Linked DNA regions of Homo sapiens. The protein of the gene in region 4 interacts with the protein of the main gene of each other region in a pairwise test. Each region holds a gene or a part of one and is shown on either strand. Other genes may lie near its edges. The genes, in order: MEIS3, MARK1, PLEKHA3 and TCL1B.

Evidence for each region.
Region 1: the proteins of TCL1B (region 4) and MEIS3 interact in binary tests that used the Homo sapiens proteins (3 or more experiments, as listed by UniProt).
Region 2: the proteins of TCL1B (region 4) and MARK1 interact in binary tests that used the Homo sapiens proteins (3 or more experiments, as listed by UniProt).
Region 3: the proteins of TCL1B (region 4) and PLEKHA3 interact in binary tests that used the Homo sapiens proteins (3 or more experiments, as listed by UniProt).

The regions. Positions count from the first base shown.
Region 1 is NC_000019.10:47,402,609-47,409,540, forward strand, and holds the end of MEIS3 (homeobox protein Meis3), read right to left. Parts: coding exon 6,828-6,932; intron 6,640-6,827; coding exon 6,491-6,639; intron 5,028-6,490; coding exon of another isoform or gene 4,821-5,027; coding exon 4,744-4,820; intron 4,530-4,743; coding exon 4,471-4,529; intron 4,364-4,470; coding exon 4,280-4,363; intron 3,919-4,279; coding exon 3,869-3,918; 3' UTR 3,852-3,868; exon of another isoform or gene 2,820-3,851; intron 946-2,819; coding exon of another isoform or gene 806-945; 3' UTR 516-805; downstream 1-515. UniProt on the Homo sapiens protein: Transcriptional regulator which directly modulates PDPK1 expression, thus promoting survival of pancreatic beta-cells. Also regulates expression of NDFIP1, BNIP3, and CCNG1.
Region 2 is NC_000001.11:220,657,118-220,664,145, reverse strand, and holds part of MARK1 (serine/threonine-protein kinase MARK1), read right to left. Parts: intron 6,357-7,028; coding exon 6,312-6,356; intron 2,335-6,311; coding exon 1,980-2,334; 3' UTR 1-1,979. UniProt on the Homo sapiens protein: Serine/threonine-protein kinase. Involved in cell polarity and microtubule dynamics regulation. Phosphorylates DCX, MAP2 and MAP4. Phosphorylates the microtubule-associated protein MAPT/TAU.
Region 3 is NC_000002.12:178,497,450-178,504,477, forward strand, and holds part of PLEKHA3 (pleckstrin homology domain-containing family A member 3), read left to right. Parts: intron 1-1,761; coding exon 1,762-1,805; intron 1,806-3,611; coding exon 3,612-3,727; intron 3,728-6,310; coding exon 6,311-6,438; 3' UTR 6,439-7,028. UniProt on the Homo sapiens protein: Plays a role in regulation of vesicular cargo transport from the trans-Golgi network (TGN) to the plasma membrane.
Region 4 is NC_000014.9:95,682,398-95,689,430, forward strand, and holds the start of TCL1B (T-cell leukemia/lymphoma protein 1B), read left to right. Parts: upstream 1-4,028; 5' UTR 4,029-4,070; coding exon 4,071-4,232; intron 4,233-7,033. UniProt on the Homo sapiens protein: Enhances the phosphorylation and activation of AKT1 and AKT2.

The DNA.
Region 1 (6,932 bases), on a different chromosome or scaffold from region 4:
AAACCCACGTCCGTCCGGAAGCCTTGGAAGTGAGGGTGTGCCTGCCTAACCTGCTCATTTCCCATGGGACAGAGGACGTGATTGGACAGCCACAGCTGGTGAAGTGACGCAGGCGTGGCCCTGAGTCTTCATTCTCCCCTGCACACACATCTCTTGCAGGAATTCTGCAGCTCCCTCTAGTTAAGAGGTGGAGTCTTGGCCAGGCCTGGTGGCTCGTTTGTAATCCCAGCACTCTGGGAGGCTCCCAAGTAGCTGAAACTGCAGGCGTGCACCACCATGCCCAAGCAATTCGTTTGCTTGCTTCGTAGAGATGGGGTCTCACTATGTTGCCAGGCTGGTCTTGAACTCCTGGCCTTAAGTGATCCACTCGCCTTGGCCTCCCAAAGGGTTGGGATTATAGGCGTGAGCCATCGTGCTTGCAGCCGGCCAATCAGTATTCTTATTCGTGATTTACGAGCTTCAAATTGGTAAGAATTTGAAATCTTGGGATAGACACAAGAACTCCAGTTGGTGGCTCCGTGTTTTTAAGACTTTATCATTAAAAAAAAGAAGAAATTAGAGAAGGGAGGTAGGGGGGACAGGAGAGTGAAGGAATCTCTCCAAAATGTCGGATCCGGGCGACCCTCCTTCCCTGACTGCCCAGCCACCCCGTCCCTTCTCTGTCCTGGCGGCGAGGCCCTAGCCGCCATCTTCTGGGGACCAAGGCCCAGGAGCCCAGCTCGGGTCCCAGGCAGAGGTGAAGGCAGAAGTGGGGCTCAGGGCCTGGAGGCCTTGCCGGTGTCCTTGAGAGCCCTTGGATGGGCACTCAGGCCCCCATGTCCCAGCAGGGCCCTAGGGAGGTAGGCATTGAGCAGAGGGGCCTTTGGAGGTGGGGTCCTGAAGCTGGAGGACCAGGCGGGAACCAGAGGCAGGTGTGAGGCTGGGGGTCACAGCCGGAGGCTGGGTCTGTGGAGAGGGGAGGAGAGGCCAAGTCAGGAGCGGGCAGGGGGCCTGGCCCCACCCCAGCCCATCTGTGCAGGCCTCATCAGCCCCAATGTGAGGGGGACACAGAGAGAGTGGCTGGCGGGGAATGGCACAGGGATGTGGGAGGGTCACAGAGAGAAGAGACGCAGTGACGAGAAAGAGGGAGACAGAGAATCAGAGTGGAGGTGAGGGAGGGAGAGACCTACAGACAGAGACAGAGAACAAGGAGAGAGACAGGCAGAGTAGGACAGAGACAGACCTGGAGGGAGTCAGAGAGAACGACATGGGAAGAGAGAGAAGAAGTCATGAAGAAATAGACGAAATGGAGAGAGAGAAAGAGAGACAGGAGGCTGGGCGCGGTGACTCATGCCTGTAACCCCAACACTTTGGGAGGCAGAGGCAGGGGGATCGCTTGAGCCCAGGAGTTCGAGACCAGCCTGGGGAACAAAGCGAGACCCGTCTCTACAAAAATAAAAATAAAAATTAGCCAGGTATGGTGGCGCACGCCTGTAGTCTCAGCCACTTGGGAGGCTGAGGCCAGAGGATCGCTTAACCTGGGGAGGTCGAGGCTACAGTGAGCCATGATCAGGAGTGGAGAGACAGAAAAGGAGACAGAAAGGAGCAGAGAAAAGAGCCCACTGGGCAGCCAGGCAGTGGGATGAGAAGACCCCTCCATCACTACTGACCCCAAAGGTCCCCTGACACTCACCCCAGACCATCCCTACCCACACTTGGCCATGAAAGAGCTGAGTCGCCCACTGCCCTACCTGGCCTGGATACGCCTGCCCATCTCTCTCCCAGGCTCGGCCTCCAGCACCCGCCTCCATGCATAAGCCCTGTGCAGGCCTCCACTCTCATCCCCAGGGCTTTTCTGCTGGCCCTGAATTCATTAGCCACCTGTCCGGCCGCCTGCCTCAACCCAGTCCAAAGAGAACTTCCTCCTTGTGTGTAGGGGGCTGGGGCTGTCTCACAGCCACGAGATTTCCAAGCTCTCCTGGCCTTGGCACGTGCTATTCCCTCTGCAGATGCTCCTCTCCTGCTTCACTCCTCCCATTCTGCTGGTCTCACCTCCAAAGTCCTCTCCTCCAGGCAGCCCTCCTTGAATCCTCTAGTCTGGGTCAGATGCCCCCTCCTCCAGGAAGCCCTCTCTAAACACCTCCCCCCATCCCAGGTCCAACACCCGCCCCCTGTGAGCTCCTCCAGTTCCTTGGCTTCACCATCCCAGCCCTGCCCGTTCTGGGGCATCACCATCTGGGGATGGGTCTGTCCCCTTCACTAGACTTTGTGCCCCATGAGGGCAGGGCTGAGGCTGTCATGGTCACTGTTGTGTCCCCAACATTACCCAGCACAGGGCTGGGCACAGAGGGGCTCAGGGGATGGATGGACAGATGGATGCTAAACTAAGGAGTTAGGACTTTGTCCAGATGGCACTAGGGAGCCACAAATGGTTTAATCCAGAGAGAGTCAAACTCTGATCTGGGCTTTGGAAACTCTAGGCTGCCTCCCTACCCTGGGCCTTTGCACATGCTGTTCCCTCTGCTTTTGTGAGCAGGGTAGACCTGTGCAAGTGACCTCTTCTCTCTGAACCTCAGTCTTCTTATCTATGAAATTAAAATTGTTAATAGTCTCCCCTTTCGGGATCGTTGTAAGGACTAAATGAGAAGATGCTCTAAAGTGCCGCCATCATACCAGGCCACAGAAGACTCAAGGCCTGGGAAAGTCAAATAATGCCCCCCTTCCACATTACTCCCTACTCTGCCCAGTGGACTCCTATTCATCCTTCAGTGCCCCATCCAGAGGCCACTTCCTCTAGGAAATCTTCCCTGATACCCCAGAGATAGCTGATGACTCCCTCCTATGGGGAAACTACGTTTTATTGTTTGAACTGTTACACTGGATTGTCACTGGGGTTGCCAACTTCCCCACAAGACCAGAATCTTCTCAAGATCCAGACCCTACCTGAGGCATGTCAGGATGGAGTGAGGGCTCAATTTTTTTTTTTTTTTTTTTTTAGATGGAGTCTCACTTTATTGCCCAGGTTGATCTTGGCTCACTGTAACCTCCGCCTCCTGGGTTCAAGTGATTCTCCTGCCTCAGCCTCCAGAGTAGCTGGGACTATGGGTACATGCCACCACACCTGGCTAATTTTTGTATTTTTAGTAGAGACAGGGTTTTACCATGTTGGCCAGGCTGGTCTCGAACTTCTGACCTCAGGTGATCCACCTGCCTCAGCCTCCTAAAGTGCTGGGATTACAGGCGTGAGCTACCGTGCCCAGCCAAGGGCTCAGTTTATGTTTGGAGATGTATCATAGATGAATGGGTGTATGTAGGTATGGATGGATGGATGGATAGTGGGTGGTGGGTGGGTGGATATATGGATAATGGGATGTGTGGGTGGATGGATGGGTGAGTTGATGGGTAGGTGGGTGGAAGCCTGGGTAGGGAGGTGGGTGAATGCACAGATAAATGGGTAGATGTGTGGGTGGTTGGTCAGTGTGGAGGTAGATGGATGAGTGGGTTGGCGAGTGGAGAGATGAATGGAGTGAGTGGGTGAATGTGTGGTCAGATGGGTAATGAGTGGGTAGGTGGGTGGACTAGGTTTGGATGGATGGATTGCGGGTGAATGAGTAATTGAGTAACGGATGGATAAAGATATGGATGGGTGAGTGAGTGGGTAGATGGATGGATACATGGAGGAGGAGGATGGATGGATGGATGGATGGATGGACGGACGGACAGATGGATGAATATCTTCCCATCAAGCCTCAGAGAACCCACAGTACAGGGACCCAGGCTGACCCACTACTCTGGAAGTGCCCACTCTTGGAGTCCTGAGGTCTAATGGAGGTTTGAGAATTGCACAATCCCCAGCCCTTAGACCCTCACACCTCTCCTGCATCAGCCTCTATAGATAATGCCATTCTCCTTCCAAGTTCAAACTCATCCCCACTGATCCTGGAAGACAAAAAAAAAGGAGGGTAAGTGCGTCTTTCAGAGACACCCCCAGATGCCTCTAAGTCTCCCTCACCCCTTCCTACACCAGGGGATCCCTCTACCAGGATAGACTGAGTCATAAGAAGGTGCTGGCCCTTTAAGAAAAAGTGGAGCCTTCCGAGGTATTGGGCTTGAAGTCTGGAAGAAATGAGGTTGTAAGGAAAAGATGGGGGACCAGGAAATCTGCCTTGGCATCACCTGCTTCTCACTAGGCAAGTGACACACTGTATTCCGCTTGAATTGAATCTCAGGTGGGCATCTTTGTTTTACAGGTGGGTCATGGTGCGCAGGGGCGGGGCCTAGCTAAGGGGGCGAGGCTTACCCGGAGGCCGGACGGCCACGTGTGGCTGCGTCTCGGTATAGCCCCCGATGGGCTGGCCCTCTGGGCTGAAGGCTGCACCCTGCCCTGCGAAGGGGGTTCAGAGGTGCAGGCTGAGCCCCAGGAAGCCCGGGACCCGGCTTTGACGCCCTCCTAAGAACCCCAGGCTCTCCGTCCCCGCCTTCCCCCTGTACCTGTGCGGTTGGATTGATCGATCATAGGTTGCACGATGCGTCTCCGGGCGTTAATGAACCTGGGAGGCGGTCATGGAAACGGAGGGGAATGAAAAGAGGGAGTGGGAGAGAGGCCAAGACGAACACAGAGCGGGCCGGAGGACAGCGGCGGGGGAGGCAGAGCGGGGCGAGCAGGGGCAGTGGCTCTGCGGGGCTCGGGGCCTCCGTCAGCACCGCGGACAGCGCCCGGGCTCTCGCCCCGGGCCGGCCCGCGGGCCCTCCTGGGCCACTCACCAGTTGTTGACTTGCAGGATGGTGAGCCCCGTGTCCTGCGCCAGCTGTTTCTTCTGCTCCTCCGAGGGGTACGGGTGCTGCAGCCACCAGCAAGAGTCACTCTGCCTGCCTGGCCGGCCGCAGTCTGAACCCCAAGGTCTGGCCCACCGGGGTCCGGGGGATGGGGAGCCCAGGCCCAGGCAGACGTCTGGGAGAACCGGCGCTTCTGAGCGTCTCTGCGCTCCCCAGGATGGAGACCAAGGGAGCCTCAGGCTTGGGGCAATTACATGCCTGCCAGCCCCCGCCTGTTCCAGCAATTAGAGGTTAACTGGCCAGCTCTGATTAGAGAGACTGTGTTGGGGGAGGGGGCTCCTGTGGCGTGGGGGAGGGGCTTCACTGGCGTCGGGGAGGGAAGCAAAGCCCAGGCCCTCCCTCTCTGAATCTGTCAGAGTCTCTGTGTGGCCCTCTCCCTATCCATTTATTTATTTATTTATTTGAGATGGAGTCTTGCTCTGTCGCCAGGCTGGAATGCAGTGGCGCGATCTCTGCTCACCGCAAACTCCGCCTCCGGGGTTCAAGGGATTCCCCGCCTCAGCCTCCCCAGTAGCTGGGACTACAGGTGCGCGCCACCATGCCCGACTAATTTTTTGTATTTTAGTAGAGATAGGGTTTTACCATGTTGGCCAGGATGGTCTCGATCTCCTGACCTCGTGATCCGCCCGCCTCGGCCTCCCAAAGTGTTGGGATTACAGGCATAAGCCACCGCACCCAGCCCTCCCTATCCATTTCTTTCTTTCTCTTTCTCTCTTTTTTTTAAACAGGGTCTCACTCTGTCACTCAGGCTGGAGTGCAGTGGCGCCTTCATGGCTCACTGCAGCCTCAATCTCCCTGGCTCAAGCAATCCTCCGGCCTCAGCCTCCTGAGTAGCTGGGATCACAGGTGTGTGCCACCATGCCTGGCTAATTTTTTTTTTTAGAGATGGGGTCTTGCTATGTTGCCCAGGCTGGTCTCGAACTCCTGGGCTCAAGTGATCCTCCTGCCATGGCCTCCGAAAGTGCTGGGATTACAGGCATGAGCCACTGTGTCTGGCCCTCCATTTCTCTCTTTGTGGCTCTCACATTCTCTCTCTGACTCACTATCTCTGTGTGTGTGTGTTTCTGTCTGTATCTCTCTCTCTCTCTGGGATTCAGTCCGTCCCTGCCTCCGAGTTTCTGTCTGTCTCTGTCCCTCTGTGACTCGGCCTCTCCCTGTCTCCATCTTGCTCTGACTTGGTCCTCCCCGAATCTCTGTGTCTCTCTGTTTTAGCCTCTTCCTGGCTCTATTTTTCTCCTCTGTCCTTGAAGCAGTATGGTGCGGTGGTTAAGGCCAGACTGCCTGCATTTGAATCCACTTCTGGCTGTGTGACCTTAGGCAAGTCTCCTAACCTCTCTGTTCCTCAGTCTCCTCCTCACCTGTTAAATGGAGATAATAGTAGCCCCTCCCTCCGAGGGTACACTGGGTGGATGGTGGGCAGGTGGATGATTGATGCGCGGGTTAATGGACAGTTTTCGGGGAGGACTTAGTGAGTTAAGTGTCCTGAGCGGCACCTGCACTCAGGTGACACTCAGTGCTGCTGGCTCCTGTCACAATTCTCCACCTCCATGAGAGTCTCGAAAAATTTCCTGCCGTCTTTCTCCCACTTCTGGGTTTCTCTGGGGTTTCGGTCTCTGTGGTCCACCCTTCTCCCTCTCTCCATTCCCACCCTGCACCTGGGCAGCAGGGCTCTCACCGAGAGGTGCTGGAACAACCAGGCTCGCATGATGTTGGTGGCCACCTTGGGGAAGATCCCCCTCTTCTTGTTTCGCCGTCGCTCCTGGTCCAAGTCCTCATCTTCTCCACCAGAACTGGGAGAGGCCACGCTGGTGTCCAGCCCGTCTCCTGAGGGAAGGCAGGCATGCTGTGTGTGTGGGTAGTGAAGAGTGGAGGACCAGAGGGCCCCAGAACTCTCCCCCAAGACAACACTCCACACCCCAGCCATCTCTGCCCCTCTACAAGTCTTACTTGCGATCTAACTTCAATCCTCTGGTTGACTCCCATGTTTCCCTTCCACCTCCCAAGATTCTCACCTTGGTCACTGGAGTTGTCCCCACTCTGGGAGGCCAGGCCCCCACTGGATGGACCTGGGGTCCCCAAATGTACAGACCCACTATCCTCATGGTCTCGAATCCACA
Region 2 (7,028 bases), on a different chromosome or scaffold from region 4:
CACATGAGTCTATTTTTTTAAAAACGTATTTCAGTGACAGGAATTCCTATAAAAAGATTAAACTTTCTTGTCATAATGACAAGAAACCTTCATAGTTTCAATAATCTTGAAAACCTTCACAGCTTCACCCTTTGCCAACTAAATTTAGAACACATACAATAAACTCCTCATACAGAATACTTTTGTACCAGAAAACAGGTAATTCACATTCTGATAAAGAGCAAAAGACAAGTGCTTTATTATGAGAACTGTTCAAGTAAAATTTCAGTGTGCACCAGTGAAAGTGAATAAAGATTTGCATCAATTTTTTTTTGAATGAACACTAGGTTAAAAAGGGGCTACACATTTTTTTTTTCAAACACCACCCTTTGCTAAGGCAAAAAAAAAACTCACTTAATTTTAAAACATAACTGTTACAGAAGAAAGCTACATCACAGTACAGTACAGAACATAAAATTCACCCTAGTCTGGAAGCCATTATGGAATGGCACATCACCTACACTTAGACCTTCTAATGTAGGTTGGAATTACAGTATTTATCACAGCTTTATTTTCTTTAAACTGATAAAATTTGAATACACTTTCTGTTTTTCAGGAGTGTGCAGATGGGGCCCATATGTTGGTATTACAGTAATTACAACAGTAAATAACATTGCACAGTCAACCTCCAAGGCTAATTCAGTATAAAATAACAAGTATTAAAATGTACCTTTACTAGTGGTTTTACATCGCATATATCACTAATTATGAAAGAAAAGTAGGCAAATGCCCAATCACAAAGCGGCACATTATAGGCATAATGATGTGGAATAAATACAAGAAATCTGGCAAAATATTTAAAACAAACGAGTTACATGGGAACAAACTGAACAACCACATAAGCATAAATCAATCATATACTGTTATAAATAGTATGTTTTGCTCACAAGTCTCTTAAGTACTTATAGATATTACAGTGGCAGGGGTGAATGAAGAGGATAGCAGGAGAATGAGGCAAATGTTCCCAATGCCAGTTAATTCCTGAGGTGGCATTATTTCTTAACTGATGCATTGATCAACACTGTAAAGATGAGTTTGTGCTGTGAAACAGTCCCAATATTATTATATTCCCGCAATTAAATTGCGGTATTCTGAAGGCAGCAAACCTACGTGACAGTTTATGTTATAATAGCCAGATAAAGTATGTTTTTTTTCTTTTAAATTTTGTTGCTACAGTTAGCAGTGGGTCAGAAAACACTTCAAAGTTCAAAAGAAACTTGATGTAGATTTAACTTTTTTCCCGGTACTTCCTAGTTAGCTCAAGGCAATGCTATTACTGAATTTCATGTACTTGAATTTAAAAACTCTAAGTGCCAACACTGTAAACATTTTGTATCTTCTCAACTAAACCTTGCGGGATAACAAGGAAAAGAGCAAAGATAAGCAGTAATAATTTTGTGTATAATAAAGCTGATCTATTTTTCAGCTTCTGGTTTAAATTTAAATAAGATTTTAAAACAATTTTTAAAGGTCCATGCTACAATTGTAAAGGCTATTTCTATGCACTTTTAATTCTGGACACAATTTTCAAAATTGCATGATGGAGGTAAGAATTTTAAAAACCCACCAGAATGTAAATAACAGGGAAGAACATTTTCAAATCAAAGCATCAAACATACATTCAGGTGCAGAAATCTAGACAACTATACAAGTTTTTAAGCAATCATGTTTTATTATACAACTCTATGAACAGAAAATGAACAGAAATACACAATATACTTACCTGTACATGTGAACCTACTTTTTAAGCTACAGATATTTATTATAGTTCATACTGACTTTAATTTTACAGTTCATAACTATGTATAACCTTATTGCATTAAGGGCAAATTCTACATGGGGAGATTCACAGGCAGACCACATTAGGCATTACCAGTACATTCAAAAACTGTACCTCATATATGTATGTATCTTCCCTGAACCTGTAAATTTGGACTTCTTTACAGCTTAAGCTCATTTGCTATTTTTGATGCAATGTTCTTAAAGGCAATAGATGTCCCAGATATTCGCTTGAAGCGAACCCCATTAAGTGACAGTCGTGGCAACTTGCAGACTTCCATCTCCCACTGCACGAGGCTATCCTGTCTAGCGTCTCCATGGACACAGAAAAGCAAAAATCTCTCTTTTTGCTCATAATCACAGTTATTTGCATCTAACACTTTTCGGATTTCTCTCATCATGTCATTAGGGTCCATTGAACTAGTGGTCTTCATACTCCATGTGAACCGCAAAGAACGCGGCTTAGAATCTTTACCCTCTTCCTTGTCTCTTTCTTTTGGTTCCCCTGATGTACTTCTGGAACAAGAGGGCAAAGGGAAAGAATGAAAGCAAATATTTCACTCAGCAAAGAGATCAAAACACACATAAAATCTAAGTGGTCATAGTTCAGTGCCTAATAACACTACCTAATTTGCAGACCACCCTCAGATGGACGCAAAGATTTATGTTATCTTGCTGTTACAGAAACACACCCCAAGATGCCATCTGTTTTGACTTTTAATATTGTCAATCTAAAATAGCATTTTTCTTAAATATAAGTGGTTTGAGGGAAACAAGTCTGCAACTGAAAGTGAAGAACTTAATACCTTCTTCAGTTCCATATTTCTCTGTTCAAGCACACACACAAAATAGGAACCACTAATATTCTATTTGTAAATATACATTTTTGAAATATAAAAAATTTCTTTTTTCTGCCTTTTTGGATAGGAGGAATGTCGTAACTTCAGAGGGAAAGATAATTCGTTTACCTGGTAAGGTTGAGAAAGAATGTTGTACTGCAATTAGGTAAAGATGTTAGATTATACCACACATCTCAATGTCCTCCAGTGACTTCTCATTTCACTAAAGACATCCTTAAAACAGTCTACAACGTTCCCCATGACTTCCATTCCAACTCCTACTACCCCCAATCCCATTTCCTAGAATTTTTCTCCTTCCTCACTCCTATCAGAACACAATGGCCTCCATGCTGCTCCTTGAACACACGGGTTATGTTCTTGCCACAAGGCTGTTGCACAGACTGTTCCCTCTGTCATGAATGCTTCTCCCCAGATGGCTGCGACGCTAACTCCTTTGCTTTTTTCAAATCTTTGCTCATATTGTACCCTAACTCCTATCCTAGCATGGCCAAGCCCCCTTAGCCTGCTTTATTTTTCTTGATAGCACTTACACATTCTAACATATTATTTAACCCATTTGTTAGGGTGTTGTCTGAATCTACCATTAGACTGTAAACTCCAGGAGGGCAAGGAATTTTGTCTATTTCATTCACTGATATATCTCGGGCATCTAGAACTGTGCTGGGTACATAGTAATAATTAACATATTTGTTAAATGACTAAATCTCACTGAATTTTACTTATTGCAGGCATCCCCCAAGTAATATGGAAACAAAAAGCCTATTTCAAACAGTCATAGAAAGAAACCTTCATAGCTTCATCAAAGTTAATAGATTATTCGTGATACAGAAAATCCTGTAATTAAATTTCTTGAACAATTATCCAAATAGAGATGTTATAATTGCAACTTGTTAACCTATCTCACTTATGTGATTTAAGAAAAAAAAAGTCCCTTGAAAGGAGTTTATAATCTACTGCATACATCTTTTAAATTAATATATATACATTTTGTATCAATAGTATGATATATATTCATGTGTAATTTTATATATATTATCTACTTCATTTCCAGGTGTCTGAGCCTAGGTATCTGAGTCCCCAAAGCTCTGCAAACTATGCAATCTTGAGAAAATAAGGAAAGGAATACGTAGAGAAAATAAATTTCCAAAGACCATTAATAAGTATGGAAAGTATTTACTTCATCGTGTTCTCTATTTTTCTCTTTTTGCCCACTGAATCTAAGCCATTGCATCACAGGCCTCTTAGGGCTTGCAAGCCAACCAGAGTCATTTACCAAGGTCACATGTATAATTCTGGTGGAATCGGCATCCTGGAAGGGTCCTGAGAGATCAGTTGACTGAGCACTCATTTTAAAGATGGAACTGATGGCTGGAAAACTTAAAATTAGTTTTCTGTGGCTCACACCTGTAATCTCAGCACTTTGGGAGGCCAAGGTGGCAGGACCATGAGCTCAGGAGTTTGAGACCAGCCTGGCCACCATGGTGAAACCTCGTCTCTACTAAAAATACAAAAATTAGCCAGGTGTGGTGGCAAGCGCCTGTAATCCCAGCTACTTGGGAGGCTGAGGCAGAATTGCTTGAACCTGGGAGGTGGAGGTTGCAGTGAGCTGAGATCGTGCCACTGCACTCCAGCCTAGGCAACAGAGCAAAACTTTGTCTCAGAAGAAAAAAAAAAATTAGTTTTCTGAAGTTATAGAGCTAATGAGTTGAAAAGTGAAGACTAGAATTTAGGGATATTATTCTAAGTCTAGTTTCCTTCTATTCCACCTTAAGATGACCTTAAGACAATGAAATATTTTTCTGCATGGTCTCACAGACATTACCACTGATAATGTCCATTGTAGAAAGCTCCTGGAAATGTGGATATTAATATAATAACAGCTAACATTTATTGAGTACTTACTAGGTGCAGGAATTGTCCTAAGTGCCTAAAATGTATTAATTACTCATTTACCCCTCAGAACAACCCTATGAGGCAGTTAGAGTGAGGAAATGGAGGCACGCAGAGTTGAAGTAACTTCCCCAAAGCCACACAGTAAGGTAAGTGGTGGAACATAGCTGAAACCCATGCACTCTGGCTGAGAACCTATACTTCTAACCACAGTATCACCTCATCTCCCTGAAATGACAGAACCTTATTATAGCTGGCTTGATCCCACCTATGTTCCTTGCTGTTTTTTTTCATCTGTAAAATAGGCATTTTCACCTAGTTGTTGTGAAAATTAAATGATCAGAAAGTACTTTATAGTTAGTATTCAATAAGTCAGTTCAAAAGCAAAAATAGAACCAAACCCAACAACAACCAAACAAAAGGGAATGTGAAAAGTATTGTGTAAACATTTATAAAATATCAGTTACTAATTCTTATAATGTAATAAAATTATATAGTTACATTAAAAGGACAAAAATGCAACTATTAAGGGCCACTTGCAATGCCACACACTACTAAATGTCTCAGAGGGAAATTTAGTGGAAATATAGGATGAAATGCAAGGAGGGGCTCAAAAGTGAAGACTAAGTGAGGGAGAGGCTAAGAACAAGTCCTCCATGTTTCTATAAAAGGCAGAAGAAAGTGAAGAATATTTGTCTTGCTCCCCTGTGGCTCCCTACTGTGGTGACTCAGGTACCTAACTCTACAAAGAAACATTTCAACTATTATTACTAAATGTAAATATAGCACAGTTTGTTAAAAAGACTACATGGGAATGCTATAGTTTTCCAAAGTTAATTATGTTTTATATTTTAAGTAACTTGAAAAGTAGAAATCAAATTGGAGGTTTGTGTTCAGCTGGTCACAATCGTTCCTGAATGAAGCCAGAGCCTTTCATACTGTGGAATACTTGTTGGTTGTAAAATTTACATTGCATCCCTTAATGCTTGGGTACACTCAAAATAAATTAATGTCTTCATTTCTTAAATTTCCCGTTTGTAAAATATGAACACAAGTACTAACATGTCCATAATGTGGTCCCTAGAACAGCAGCATAAGCATCTCCTGGGGACTTGATAGAAATGCAAATGCACAGGCACCTGCCTCGGCCCCTGAATCAGAAACCCTGGGAGTGGGATCCAGCAACCTTTTTATCAAGCCTTCCCTGTAATTCTGATTGTGCTCAAGTATGAAACCCATTGCCAGAATGAATATACAACTAGCATGAAATGTCAAAAAAAGAAATCCCCAAAAGTATGCCTGGATAGAATTTTTAAATGTGGTCAAACACTGAATTATCACCTAAAATATATTACTAATATCAAATCTTCCTACATGTAATTATCTCCCTGTTCTGTGTTATTTGTGCTATTTGACTCAGACTAATTTTAGTTACATTACTTTAGTGAGAAAAATATCAGTACATTTAATCTATTAATTCTTTAGCTTGACATACTTTATAGAACAGAAAGCCTATTTCTATACCAAGTACACAATTCAAATGCATGTTTGGAAAACAAACTTAAAGTTGACTGACTTGAATGCTAGGTAACATTATGAAAACCCACCCCAATATAAAAATCTAAAATACGCATGCTATCTAGTTATTAGATCTATTCATGATCATTAAGTGCTGTAAGTATTTCAAAAGTACGTTTTCATACACAGGGACCTAGCAGCGAAGTATTAATAGTGGCTCCTCACCTTGAGGTGTCGGTTCTGCCACTGGCTTCGCCTTCACTTGGATCCCTCAAAACAAAGTGAAGGTTGAGATTTAATGATAAAAGTAAAAAATATATCAAGAAAACCTATATCTAAAATTATTTTAAAATTAGCTTGTTGAGCAAACTTCTACCATGACAGTTTTCTATTACTAGTCAGTCTGAGACTATTTCTCATATTTTTCACCATAACCGCATGTAATTTATCATTTATTGAGCGTCTACTCATTTTTGTCAAGAGGCAATATGAGGTGAAAGTTTGAAATTTTTTTTTCATAATCTTCCAATTCCCAGCCATGATTCATTTGAAGTCATAATTTATCTTTTGGTTTAGTTTAATCTAAAGTTAAAACTATTTAATAATTATCAATAGCAAGATTCAACTTCAAATTTGTAATTATGTATAATTCTAGTAGTCGCTCAATTTAGAAAATATATACATTAACCTTGTAGTTAGCAAATAAACACCAATTTCCAAATAAGCAATTTCTTTTAGAAGTTATGCTAACAATTCATGCACATGATAAAATATCACAGCAAATTAACAGCCTATCCATGTAGGCAAGTCTAAAAACACGGATTCAATCTTAAATAAAAACACTGACCTTACCTGGATATCCACCTGCGAAATAAAACCAGGAAAACACTACTAATTGTTCTGTGTTGCATGTAATTAATATTTTTGAAGTCTACCAAAATT
Region 3 (7,028 bases), on a different chromosome or scaffold from region 4:
TCGATCTCCTGACCTCGTGATCTGCCCGCCTTAGTCTTCCAAAGTGTTGGGATTACAGGCGTGAGACACTGCGCCTGGCCCATTTTATGTATTTTTTAATACCATCTTACAGGACTGTGGTGTGGTGTTGAGTAAAACATAGTTTGACAATGTTGCTTTTTAGGACAATTGTAGATATGCTATAAACTGTTAATTAACAAGTATGTGTGAACAAAGAAACCAGTGTTTTGAGATGGATGTGTAGTGCTGTGTTCCTGAGGTTGATAGACAAAGGGTACACTTTTTTTTTTTAAGCTGTACTTTTTAGAGTCAAATGCAGTAAAACACCTCAGAGTTGCCTTGCTTCTGCATTGAACTTCTCAGGAAATCCCTTATGTTACAAATGCTCTGTAGTCCAGAGAAGTCAATGCGTATTTTACATATAAGAAACTAAAATAATTATTAGTTCTAGAGACAAATAGCATGGAAAGTAAGGTCAGACAATCTTCATGTTTTTTTTTTAAATAACATTGTTTATTTATTTATATGAAAAACTTACATTTATTTATATGAAAAATAAAGCTGAAAATTTGAGTATTCCAAAACAATTTAATCTGATCTTTGTAAGTGCTTTAATCTGATCTTTATAAGCACTTTATATAGTTAATCTCAATGAATTCATCTTAGAGTAAACTTGCATTTAACTTTATTTCAAGTTGTCATAAAAGTTCAGACAACCATCACTGGACCTACAGATTGAGTGATTATTATAGTGGGGATGTCCTTGGGTTAGTAAGCCTAAAGGAAGTAATTTCTGTTAAAGGAGATGTTAGTGGCCATTTGCATCTTAATGTCAATCTTATCAGATGTTCCCAGACTACAAACTGGGTGGGTCATATCTCTTAGCATTTCAACTGGTATTTCTCAGAGCAACTAGTGGCTCATGTTCCAAATATAGAAGGCATTTGCATAACATCAATGTTAGACCTGGGCTTGTTAGACTCTTGGGCTCATGTATACAAAAGCAACCACCCTAAACCTTTAGTATAATCTTTGTTTTTCTGCTACCATGTTAAACTTTGAAATAATCAGTTTTACTTGGCTGCCTCCCTTTATATTTTGATGGAGTAGTTGGATCTTCCAAATTATGTTTAGTATTTATCATATTTTTTAAATGTTCTGCTTAATTAGGTATTCTTTATTTTTTTAAATATATGTTTTGGAAATCCACTGAGACTTAGGGTTCTTCTTCTGAGTTCTTTAAAGTCTTGAATTATTAATGCTGTTTTCCATGAAAACCACACTTTAGAACATTTGTATATCAGCTACCTAAATAATTAATGATAAAGAGAAGCTTTGCTGCCAGACTCTACTACTGTCCTTTAAAAAAGAGATATTTATTAGAATATTTTGTGGCTTGCTAGATACTCCTTTTTTATCACATTTATATCTTATTTATAGTTATATACCCTGTTTTTTATATTTGTATACACACACATATATATGTATTATGTATAAAATTTGGTTTTCACTTTTGAAAAAAGAATCCAGCATGTTTTTGGTGTGTGTTGAAAAAGATTCCAATTAATGGTTATTAGGGAGAAAGCTTGATGTTGTACTAATTATGTTGCTTGAGTCTGTGAAAGATTAAATTTTTTTTTGCCAGTTATCTTTTTCTCTGAGTAAATTTATGTTTATTATGATAATAGTAAATTAGAGCTGCATGATTCTACTTGACATATGGATTATGCTAATTTTTTTTTTTTTTTCCAAAATTTCTAGATGAAGCGTTCTGTCAGCCACCCTGGTTCTTGCAGTTCAGAGAGGTAAAAGAACCTTTTCTTCTGACTAAGTTCTCTCAAATTATATCCATCTAGGGAAGTTCTTTGGGCCTTTAACAAGTGGTGTGGAATGTAAACTCTGTATGGGTTAGGTCTGGTTCAAAACCAGCATTTTATCTCTCAGTATTTATCTCCTAGTATTTAGTATAAGGGCCTGGCCTCAGTAGGTAGTCAGTAAAGAAAAAAATGAATGAATTAACCAGCAAGGTAAGCACGTTGCCAGCCATTTTACCTTTTTTAGATGTTTGAAATGCAGTCATATATTGAAGAATGACTTTTCCATCAATGATAGACTGCATATGTGACAGTGGCCTCATAAGATTATAATACCATATTTTTACTGTACTTTTTCCATGTTTAGGTATGTTTAGATACACAAATACCATTGTTACAGTCACCCACAACATTCAGTACAGTAACATGCAGTAGAAGTTTGTAGCCTAAGAACAATAGGCTATACCACATAGCCTACATGTGTAGTAGGCTATACTAGCTAGTTTTGTGTAAGCACGCTCTGTGATGTTTGCACAGTGACAGAATCACCTAGCGATGGATTTCTCAGAATGCATCCTTGTCATTAAGAGACGCATGACTGTATATCAAGTGATGGTTAGACAGAAGTACATTTTTGATGTGTTGAGACTCCACAGCTAGGGCTCATTTTACCTCAGCTGTTTATAGCATCATCTATTCATGCTGAGCTGTTGTTTCATTAAGAGAGAAAGATCTTGCTGAAGAGAGAAAACCACTTGATATTTTAAAGTACATATTCATATCAATACGTTTAAAAATTTTACCTTCTGGATAGATCTTACCAAAATGCTAAGTTGTTAAACTATTATTTTGTTAGGTAATAGTCCTTTAAGTTGCTATGGTTGTCTTATTTAGTTCTTTGGAAAGTGATTTAATTATAGTGACATTGGCATTTATTTCTCTATATTTGGACTGTTAAATGCTGTTTTGTCATGTTTTAATTTTTTCCCCTGATGATTGTATAATCTTTGATTAAACTGTCAAATACTCAGAGGAATCCAATGATGTATATATCCAACCTTGTCAGGGAATCAAGAGTCCCACCAACTGAATTTTCCAGAAAAATGGAAGCTTAATCAATTTTTGACCAACTTTTATTTTTATGAAAGAAATTTTTCTATCCTTTCTACCTCATAAAATAATAATTTTAAAATCTTATTTGTTTCCTGATGAATCAAGGTTGTCATTAAGTACAGTAAAGTTGGGCTGTTACAAAAATAGTAGCTGAGATGCTGTTAGGTGGTGGTGATTTGCTTCTCTGTTTAAATTTTTCAGACAGATTTTTAAAAGAGTTTTTCTAGGCCCCTTTTTGCCATCTTTATCTTCTCTTGCTGTTGTCAGTGAGTCTACCTCTAGCTCTATGAACTCCTTGCCCATCTCTTTCAGTCTGCTGGTTTTGATCAGATATGGATTGACTTAAAATACATGCATTCATGAAACCTATGACTTCTAGTTTTCAAACATTTGTAAACCGACTGATATGTCTGCTCTCTGGAGTCTCCCCTACAGAAGTCACTACTTCTTCATTGTACCCCTCTTCCTTTTAGTTCAGCTCAGAAGCCATATTCTCCAGGTTACCAGCTGTCTTCTAAATGGGTTCACTTGTTTTTGACTTCTGAGTAGAATGTTGCTAACACGGGACGTTGAGCATAAAAATAATTCTTTTTTCACTTAAAGAGAAGTCATTTAAAATTCCAGTTGAGTGTGTTTTTGTTTATGTAAGGCCTTACAATTTAATGCTTTTTACTTAATTTGCAGGAGTAGCCACTCTATAAAAGAACCAGTATCTACACTTCACCGACTCTCCCAGCGACGCCGAAGAACCTACTCAGATACAGATTCTTGTAGTGATATTCCTCTTGAAGACCCAGATAGTAAGTGACATAGATTCTGTCTCTTTCTTTGGCATATTCAGCAAAATTACTGTGGGGCTCTGTAATTTCTGGAAATGAAGTATACTGACTGAACATTGTACTTTGTTTCTTTGATTCCTTAATTCAGAGGTAAGCAAACAGCGCTCAATCAATGAAAGCTCATATATCCCCTTACAAACAGGTTTGTTACTAACTAAGGAGTGCTGAGGATTGCTTTGTAAATATCGTATCTCAGATATATATTTATAGAATATCATGATCTTTTACCACCACTAGGACTTAAAAAACATTTTAGAAGAAGGCATGAATTGTTAGCAGGATTCTAGGGGAAAATAAAGGCAAGTTCCAAGTTCATATAAAAGTCAGCATTGTTACTTTACTAAAATACCTAGAAATGGCTAAGGAAAAGAATTTTGTCTGGTAGTCACAGTGAATTATAGTAGCATTCATTCCTCTACCTTTTTCTTCCTTATTAAAGAGGCAGCATACTGTGATTGAATGTTTTTAGGAAAGGTTTTGTGATTTATGTTAAAATTTTTAAATTTTTCTCTTCAGAGAAGAAGCTTTGAAAGTGTGTCAGAATATCTAGTAAGATAGTAGTGACCATGATTTGCAGTGAACACAAATATAGTCTTATTATTACATCTCCATTAATAGACTTATACTCTCCAAGTCTCTACTATTTCTCAGGAAGCATGTGGGATAGAAACTATGTACAATTTCCAATTAAGGAACAGGTCGTGTTCCAATAGTTAGTTCATTTGTAAGTCAGTTGTTTGGAAAACAGATTTTATTTTTCTTGTGGAAATGACATGATAAGTGGTGGTTAGCTCTTTGGATAGCTAACCATTCTTTGGAAGAGCCCAGTGAATTCATAGTATGGCTGAAATGGGACAAAACAATGGTGTATTTCTAGCATTTGAGTGTATTGAAAACACTGATTAAGCTGGAGTTGTTTTATGTAACCAGAAAGTTAAACAGGTTTAGTTCATACATATGGCAATTTTAAAAAGGATTGCTGGTCATTTTTGGATTTTTAGGAGTTGATAGAATCTTTTTTTTTTTTTAATGCCCACTTTTTTTTTAAACTGAATTAATCATCTATTTATTAATATATGGCACTATTCTATGCTCATTAACATTTTGAATTTAAATTGAGATGTGGGTGGAGAAATGAAGGAAAGAAACCGGGAAGGGGAAGGGAGAAAGAAACTTTCTTGGGCCAATCAAGCAAGACCTGGAAGAGAAGAGGAGGAGAGGAGGAGGGTTAAAGAGGTTGAGTATGTGAAAAAAGTTATCTGAGGCAGGTAAGATAGACTCTGATTCTCTTTATTCTTTATGCCTTTTACACATGACTCTTAATCCAGAGTTCATGAAGGAGTTCTGTATGCTACCTTGTAGTTTTAAGTGCGACATCTTTTTTTTTTTTTAAGGGGATCATTTGTGATTACTAAAATAATTTTTTTAAAGCCATCCATTTTTCTTTAGAATTCTTTTCTTCTAGTTACTCTAGTCCTGAATATTTGAAAACAATTTTCAAAAGATCTAGGTGTACATGCTCTATTATATTTAGCATCCCCCAGTTTAACTGTTATGGACTGTAACAAAACTAGTCTCACACACACACACACGCACGCACACACACACACGCGCATACATATAGTTCACTTCTCTAGAACATCTTTAAATTAGCAAGTATAGACTAGGTCAGAAATTTTATCCTTAGATTTTTTCCTGTTTATACTAGTTTAGTGTTTCAATTAGCTGACAAAGCAAAGATTGAATTAGTGCTCTTTCCAGAAAGTATATATTTTGCAATTGGCAGTCTTAGTTGAAAGTTGTTACTCAAAAATATTCTTCTTGTGAGATGCAACTGCTTCTATTTTCTTTAACAAGCTTTTTCAAAAAGTATGAAAGTAATAAATGATGATGGTAAACTCAAACTATATATATAAAGGTACAACTGCCTTAGAACAGGACTATGCCAGTGTAGTCAGCTGTGTTAACATGGAGTTGCAGTGATAGTTCTGTGAGCTGCATTACAAATGGAGAAATGGGATCTTTCAGTATGAGGTACCTTGTCAGCTTTGCTCAGAAAGTCTTAGAATGAAAAGAGGAATACCTGAATTTAGTCCTCGTTCTGTTACCAATTGTGTGATCTTGGGTAAGGCATGTATCCTTTTATGGGTCTTGGTTTCTTTGCCTAGGAACAAGGAGGATATTAACAGCATTAAAATAGGCTGAAAAAGCAATAGTTAATTAATAAAGATTAAATTCAATTCAGCAAATATTTATTGACTACCTATTATGTGCCAACCATGATTCTAGCAGTGAACAAAACAAAAATCTCTACTTCAGGCAATTTCATCATTTATCTTATGAATTCTGATGTTTCTCCTTGTGGCTGTTGATACTCTAGTCTAAAAGTTAAGTTTTCCTGCATGAAACAAACAAGGAAATACAAAATTAGCCAGAAGCTAAAGGAATTTCATGTCCCTGAACAGGAAATTTAAAATGTTCTTTCACAGAGGACTGGAGTTAATATTGACAGGATGTTTAACGTTTTTATCAATGTCTTCATAGGACCTGTTCACTGTTCAAAAAATACACTTAATGGAGATTTGGCATCAGCAACCATTCCTGAAGAAAGCAGACTTATGGCCAAAAAACAATCTGAATCAGAAGATACTCTTCCATCCTTCTCTTCCTGAAGAAACTGAAGTGTCCAACTTCCTCTAAGTATTGCTATGCAAAAGCTGCTGTAATTAAACTATTGTTATAGGGAGTAGTTTTTTCCCTTAGGACTCTGCACTTTATAGAATGTTGTAAAACAGACAAACAAGAAAACAAACCACATACTTTTGAAGTGTATTTTATCTTTATATAGTTTGTTTGCAAGAGTATTTTCCTAATAACTTCACAGTATGAATGTGCATCTTTTTTTTTTGAACAAATGATGGTGTAACATTTTGACATCCATAAGGACAAATGTAGATATTTTTCTTAAAAACTCTGAGGGGACTGACAGCATGGTCAGGGTGTATTGTAGCTTATAAACATGAAATCTTATAAGGTTTCAGTTTGACAGAAGTGTGATATATGTAACTTGTGCCATGGACCAAATGGTCACTTTACCACAGCTAAAAATGAGTTACGATAGCAGCTTGATGGTGATTGTATTGTATTCCTTTAATCAAAAAGGAAACACAATATTCTAAGTATCTTTAGCCCAAATACCATGACATATTGAGCATCTTTAAATAACCAGACTGTATTGTCCTTCATATGTGAAGTTGACACT
Region 4 (7,033 bases):
GGTTATAGCAGATGTCAGCATTAGTGAACTGGAAGATAAACTAATAGAAAACATCAACATTGAAGCTCAGAGAGGAAAAAAAAGGAAACAAAACAAGAACAGAGCATAGAGAGCACGGTACACTTGTTTAAAGGGTCTGACAATGTGTAATTGGAGTCACTGAAAGAGAGGGAAAGGGAGGAAAAGAAAGGATGAGACGGGAATAGTTGAAGATACAATGGCTAAGACATTTCCTCAAATAGTGGATAAACTATTAGAGTTAAGTCAATTTATCTAGGTCTTAGATATAGTGTCAATGCACACAAACCAGTTGCATTTTTTTATAACAGCAACAAACATAATACATAATTTGAAATGACATTTAAAATAGCATCAATCAAATACTTAAGAGTTAATTTAATGAAATCAGAGAGAACAGTTAAAGACAACCCAAAATATGGAAGGATACACTATGCAATTGCTTCGGATCGTAAGTCTTAATATGTTGGAGATGTTAATTCTCTTCAAATATACCTATAGATTCAACACAATCCCAATCAATCTTAGCAGGCTTTTGGAGGTGGGGAGGATTAACAAGCTGATTTTAAAATGCATATGGATATGTAAAGGGAAGAGAATAGCTATATTAGGGTTCTCCAGAGAAACAGAATCTTACAATAAGATATAAAGACCTATTTTAAAGCTATAGTAATTAGCAATGTGGTATCAACACAAGGAGAGACAAACAGACTAATGGAATAGAAAAGTGTCCAGAAACAGACTCATACATAAATGTTCCCAGATTTATGACAGAAGTGATAATACCGTACAGTAGACAAAGCATAGTCTTTTAAATAATTGGCATTAATTGGATATCAACATGGAAAAATTAATCTAAATAAAATCTTTAGAAGAAAATAGTGTACATAAGCAAAACTTTCCTAAACCCTCATTCTTCAGTTCCGTGGTTGGGTTGACTTTCTTTTACCACTTTGCAAGTTTGCTCTGCTCACTGTCTGAAATAAGCAGAGCTGGAACTTGGATGTTCTTGTTTTTGTTATTATCTGCACAATCCCCATCCAGTCTTTTCTCTAGTAGTCATGATCTACTTGATACTAAGCCACTCTTTGGTTTTATCATTAGTTCTAACATTAAGTGCATACTTATGTCACTCCTTGTCTCAAACACTCATTGCTCATCATTCAAAACCAGCTGCTGGGACTGGCGTGTTTGATGCTTACAATGGAGCATCAATACCACCCCTGCCCCCACCACCACCACATTCTTATTCTTTATCATATGAGCTTGGATAATCCTCATTATTCCTGATCTCCAGACACACCCTGAATTACCTCTCCTCCAGGTCTACTCATGCTGCTTACTCGGTGGGACAACTTTGCCAGTTCCATCTAAACCATGCCCTGTCTAGGCTGTCTGCCTTTGGCATCTTGTCTGCCCTGCCATTTTGGCCCAGTACCTAGGAGGAGCTGAACAGAAATGTGCAGAGGTATCAGTGACTCTTACCCAGCCTTCCAAGCCCTGCACAGCGCCTCCTTGTTTGTGGTCTGGAATCCTTCCGGCAAGTGGGTGTCCAGCCTCAACGTCCCCAGGGCTTGGGGCTTGTGAAGGGCTCCCTCTGCTGGAGGAGGAGAGCATTGGGCCCAGGCATGAGTGCACCATCAGTACCAGGCAATCCTGGGAGCAATTCTGGAGAGATCAAAGTGGTTCTCAAAGACATTGGTGACACCTACCCCGGAGAGTGAATCCTTCAGGTCACAGGTACCAGAGATGGACAACTTGGCCAGAAGACATAGCCTTATCTCACTTATCTCAGACATGACATGGACAAAGACCAGCTGAAGGACCAGGAACCAAACTGTTGTCACCTGCAGCTCCGTGGCTTTTTTCATACCAGGTCCAAGGGTTGAGGGATGGGAGACCTGGCCAAAGAGGGTGATCGGTGAAGCAATCTATTTTCCACCTTGAGGCTAACTGGTAGTTATTTCTTTCTGCCTATGGAGACCTCTGCTTACCTTCTGACCACCCACTCATGGCAAGGTGTTCTCAGTCTCCATCTTCAGACCCCACCACCATTTCTACAGTAGCCACTGTGGATCTCCCTACTCCAGGTTCTGCCTCTTCCATGTAATGAGCCAAACTTGGCCAAGGCAGTCAACAAGCAGCATGCATGTTAGAGCCAGGAACAGCTGGGTCCATATCCTTCCTCTGCTACCCACTTCATTCAGGTTGCTAAGCCACTCAAGCCTCTGATACTTCATCTATGAAATGGGGGTGACGGTCTCTAGTTTATGGAGTTGTTGGGAGGTGTTAGTGAGATACCCTATGAAAAATGCCTGACATGGCATAGGGGCTCCCCACATATTAGGCAACCTTTACCTCCAACCCCACTGACAGCCACACACCTGCCCATCAGGGAGTGAGGTTGAGAATATCAAAATATATATTTGCAACAGAAAATGATAGAGATAAATAGCAATTGCATTGGGGTTACAAGGGTAGGAATGATGGATTCTGCCTGGGAGAGGGAACTAGTCTGAGAACATAACTATTGACCAGGGTATTTCAAGTATTCACTATGTGTCAGGCTTTAACACTATACACACAGCCTCATCTGATCCTCAGAGGAGTCCCATAGGGTAGGTACCTACAGCAAACAGGCTTCAGGGGGGCCCAGGAGACCAGGGGTCCCCATGATCCCTGCCTCCTGGTATTCATAACCTTGAGTAAGGATAGGACCTACCCCTGACCAATGGAATATGGCAAAGGTGACACACGTACGTGATTCCATGTATGGATCACATTATATGAGACTGTGATGTCCCTTGTCTTCCTGGCCCACTCCATTCCCACCCCAAGTGTTGGTTCCTTGGAAAAACACTGGGGATGGAGGTGGAATTGCTGTGAAAACAAGACTCAGTCCTCCACAGAAGCTGCCCAGGGAGTTCTTCAAAAGTGGTTATCCTACCTGCCATTTACACTGGATCAGGACTGTCCAGAAATCATTTTCACATCTCCCCAGCAGAATGGCATCATCTCAATACTAATCTTCACTTGAACTAGAAGAATCATGCTTGTGGTTTTCAAAAGGAAAAGGTTCCTATTCATGGTGCATTTAGAAGCAGCCCAGGGTGCTTATAGAACGGACCTGCTTCTTGCTATGTTCTTGAGCTTCTGAGGCCTCTTGACAAAGTCGAGCAAGTAAGACGACCAGGCCAAGTGGGCACTCTGGGCCCCATGGCCAAGGATGGGCTGGCCAGGTGGCCACGTGGCCTCCGGTGGCCTTGTTTCTGTGGGCTTTATCTGATCCTGAGCTCAGATGCTGATAGTGCACTGGCTTATTTTCTAAGGAGAGGGAGCTTGATTTGTGCAGGATGCGCCTTCACCAGATACCTCCAGGGGCAAGAGTCCACTGAGGTTACAGCGCCCCCCGCCCCCCATGCCTCTAAGCTCTAAGCTCAGAGAAGGGTCCCTGACACAGAGTCCTGTTAAAGGAATGGCCACAGGGATAGGAGAGACCAGGGTCGTGCATGCCAGCTCAGGATCTGGGGCAGGATGGTTGGCAGGGGGTCGTGGGGAGCAAAGGAGGGGAATCACCTGACAGAAAATTGGGCAGGGGTGCTCAGGGAGGAGGCTGCGGAGGGACTGGGACCAGTGGAAGGGAGGTGGAATAGGTCTTAGGAGCCAAATTCCTTGCAGAGGCCTGGGGTGAAGCCTGGGCAGCTCTATCCCCGGGAGCCGCCCTTTTGCCTCCAGCAGCTGCCGGTCCAGCCACAGCCCCTCCAGGAGACCCAGGCCGGGTTCCTAACTCCGCTGCTCTTTGGCCTCGTCCCTGCCTAGCCCCTGCTGCAGGTTGCTTTTTTCCCCCCTCCTCCTCCTCCCTCCTCCCTCCTCCCTCCTCCCCCTTCCTCCTCCTCCCCCTCCTCCCCCGACTGGCCCCGCCCCCACTGCCGGCCCCGCCCCCACTGCCGGCCCGGGCCCCACCCACGCCGGAGCTGCTCCATTTAAGGAGATTGCGCAGCTGGAAAGCTACACGTGTGAGCCTAGAGGCGGGTCCCGGTTGCAGACTTGCCATGGCCTCCGAAGCTTCTGTGCGTCTAGGGGTGCCCCCTGGCCGTCTGTGGATCCAGAGGCCTGGCATCTACGAAGATGAGGAGGGGAGAACCTGGGTGACTGTGGTCGTGCGGTTCAATCCCTCGCGTAGGGAATGGGCCAGGGCCTCCCAGGGCAGCAGAGTGAGTCCTGGGCACGAGGGGAGGCTGTGGGGAGGGCTGCGCACTGACCCCTGCCCGTGTGGGACCGCGGTGGGGGTCAGAGGGGGCCGTTCTCACCCGCACTGGAAAACTCACTTCTGTGCAGGTCTAGGAGCGCAGCAATGTCCATGCCCAGCCCTGGCCCCAGGAACACCCCCCGTAAAGGGACCACAGGCACAAGCTTATCCACATGAGATAATGTGGTCCTGCGTGGTGAAGCCGAGGCTAAGGTAGCTCAGGGCTTAGTGCCATTCCCAGTGCCTGCTGGGAAGGCCCACAAATGGGGCAGCTATTGAGCTGGGCTTTGTGGGATGAGTAGGAGTTCTCCAGGTCTAGAAAGGAGGCAGGAGTAGTATAAGCAAAAGCATTGCAGCCTGGAGGCACCAGGTGGGCCAACAGGATGAACATGACATTGGTGTCAGATTACTGATCTGCAAAATGAGAATAATATACCTCTGTGGCAAGCTAGTCACAGACATGCTCACATACATGGCTCACCGCCTGAATGGCCTGGGGAAGCATTTGACTGATAACAGATTCTGGAAATTAATTCAGGAGGCTTGGGTGGAGTCCTAGATTCTTTACTTTTCAAAAGCTCCCCAGGTGATAATGATAATGACTCAGGAAACGGCTGTAGATGAGGGCTTTAGATCACAGCCAGTCTTTGAGGGATGAAGTAAATACAGTAGCGTTTCTGGTGTGGGTGGCGGTGGGGAATTGATTCCAGGACCGACTGTGGATGCTCAAGTCCCTGATAGAAAATGACCTGGGTAGTAATTACATATAACCTCAGCGCATCCTCTACTATATTTGAAATCAGATTACTAATAACACCTAATGCTACACCTACACATCACTTCAAGCTCTGCTTTTGGGAACTTTGTGGAATTTCTTTTTTTCCCAAAATATTTTTAATCTGAGGTTAGTCGAATTCATGGGTGCAGTATCCATGGAAATGGGGGGCTGGCTGTACCTTAGTGTAATGTGGTAAAAGCATATCCGGATATTTAAAATGCCATTTAGGGCTGGGCGCGGTGGCTCACGCCTGTAATCCCAGCACTTTGGGAGGCCGAGATGGGCTTATCACGAGATCAGGAGATCGAGACCATCCTAGCCAACATGGGGAAACCCCGTCTCTACTAAAAATACAAAAAATTAGCCGGGCGTGGTGGTGGACGCCTGTAGTCCCAGCTACTCGGGAGGCTGAGGCAGGAGAATGGCGTGAACCCGGGAGGCGAAGCTTGTAGTGAGCCGAGATCGCACCACTGCACTCCAGCCTGGGTGACAGAGTGAGACTCCGTCCCAAAAAAAAAAAAAAAAAATGCCGTTTAGGTCTTCGTAAACAATTCACTGCCTGTTTGTTTGTTTTTTGAGAAAGTCTTGCTCTGTTGCGGCTGGAGTGCACTGGTGTGATGTTGGCTCACTGCAACCTCCACCTCCCAGGCTCAAGTGATTCTCATGCCTCAGCCTCCCGAGTAGCTTGGATTACAGGCGATTTTTTTTTACAGTTAATTTTTTTTGTTATTTTCAGGAGAGACAAAGTTTAATCATGTGGGCCAGGCTGGTTTTGAACTCCTGACCTCAAGTGATCTGCCCACCTTGGCCTCCCAAAGTGCTGGGATTACAGGTGAGCCACCTCGCCCAGCCAGTTCACTGACACTTTAAACAATATAACACATTTCCTAAAAAAAGTTCAAATAGGTTATTTCAAAAAATGTTGGTAGAGAACATGGAAAGGCTTTTCTGTACATACACTAAATAAAGCATGCAAAAATTGTGGAGCAAATATTTTAAGTTTTTCAAAAGCCTGAAAAAGTGTTAATGGAGGGCACTGTAAAATGGTGCAGCCACTATGGAAAACAGGATGAGGATTTCTCAAAGAAAGAATTACGGCATAATCCAGCAATGCCGCTTCTGGATATATACCCACAAGACTCTGAAGCCGGAACTTAAGCATGTATTCATACATCCATGTTCACAGCAGTATCATTCATACTAGCCAAAAGGTGGTGGCAGCCCCAGTGTCCATTGATAGATGAATGGGTAAACAACACAAACCATGAAGTATTCACCCTTAAAAGTCAGACACACGGATGAAACTTGGAGCCATTATACTAAATGAAATATGCCAGTCACGGAAGGACAGATTCTCTTGTATGAGGTACTCAGAGTGGTCTCATTCATAAAGTGGAATGGTAGCTGCCAGGGGCTGGAGGGAGTCGAGGATGGGAAGTTAATGTTAGTAACAGGTACGGAGTCTCAGTTTGGGAAGATAAAAAGTTCTGGAGGTGGATAGTGCCGACGGTTCCACATGTCAATGCACTTAATGCCACCAAACTGTACTCTTAAAAACAGTTGGCCGGGTGCGGTGGCTCACGCCTGTAATCCCAGCACTTTGGGGGGCCGAGGCGGGCGGATCACAAGGTCAGGAGATCGAGACCATCCTGGCTAACACGGTGAAACCCCGTCTCTACTAAAAATACAAAAAAATTAGCCGGGTGCGGTGGCAGGCGTCTGTAGTCCCAGCTACTCGGGGGGCTGAGGCAGGAGAATGGCTTGAACCTGGGAGGCAGAGCTTGCAGTGAGCTGAGATCCAGCCACTGCACTCCAGCCTGGGCGACAGAGCAAGACTCCGTCTCAAACAAAACAAAGCAAAACAAAAAAAACAGTTAAGATTTTTTTTTTTTTTAAATGATTCAGTGGAAATAGAATGGATTCTTCAAATAACTTAGCCACGGGTGGGATAAGGGACCTACTTAGTAAGTATTTTTTCCCCTTCTTTC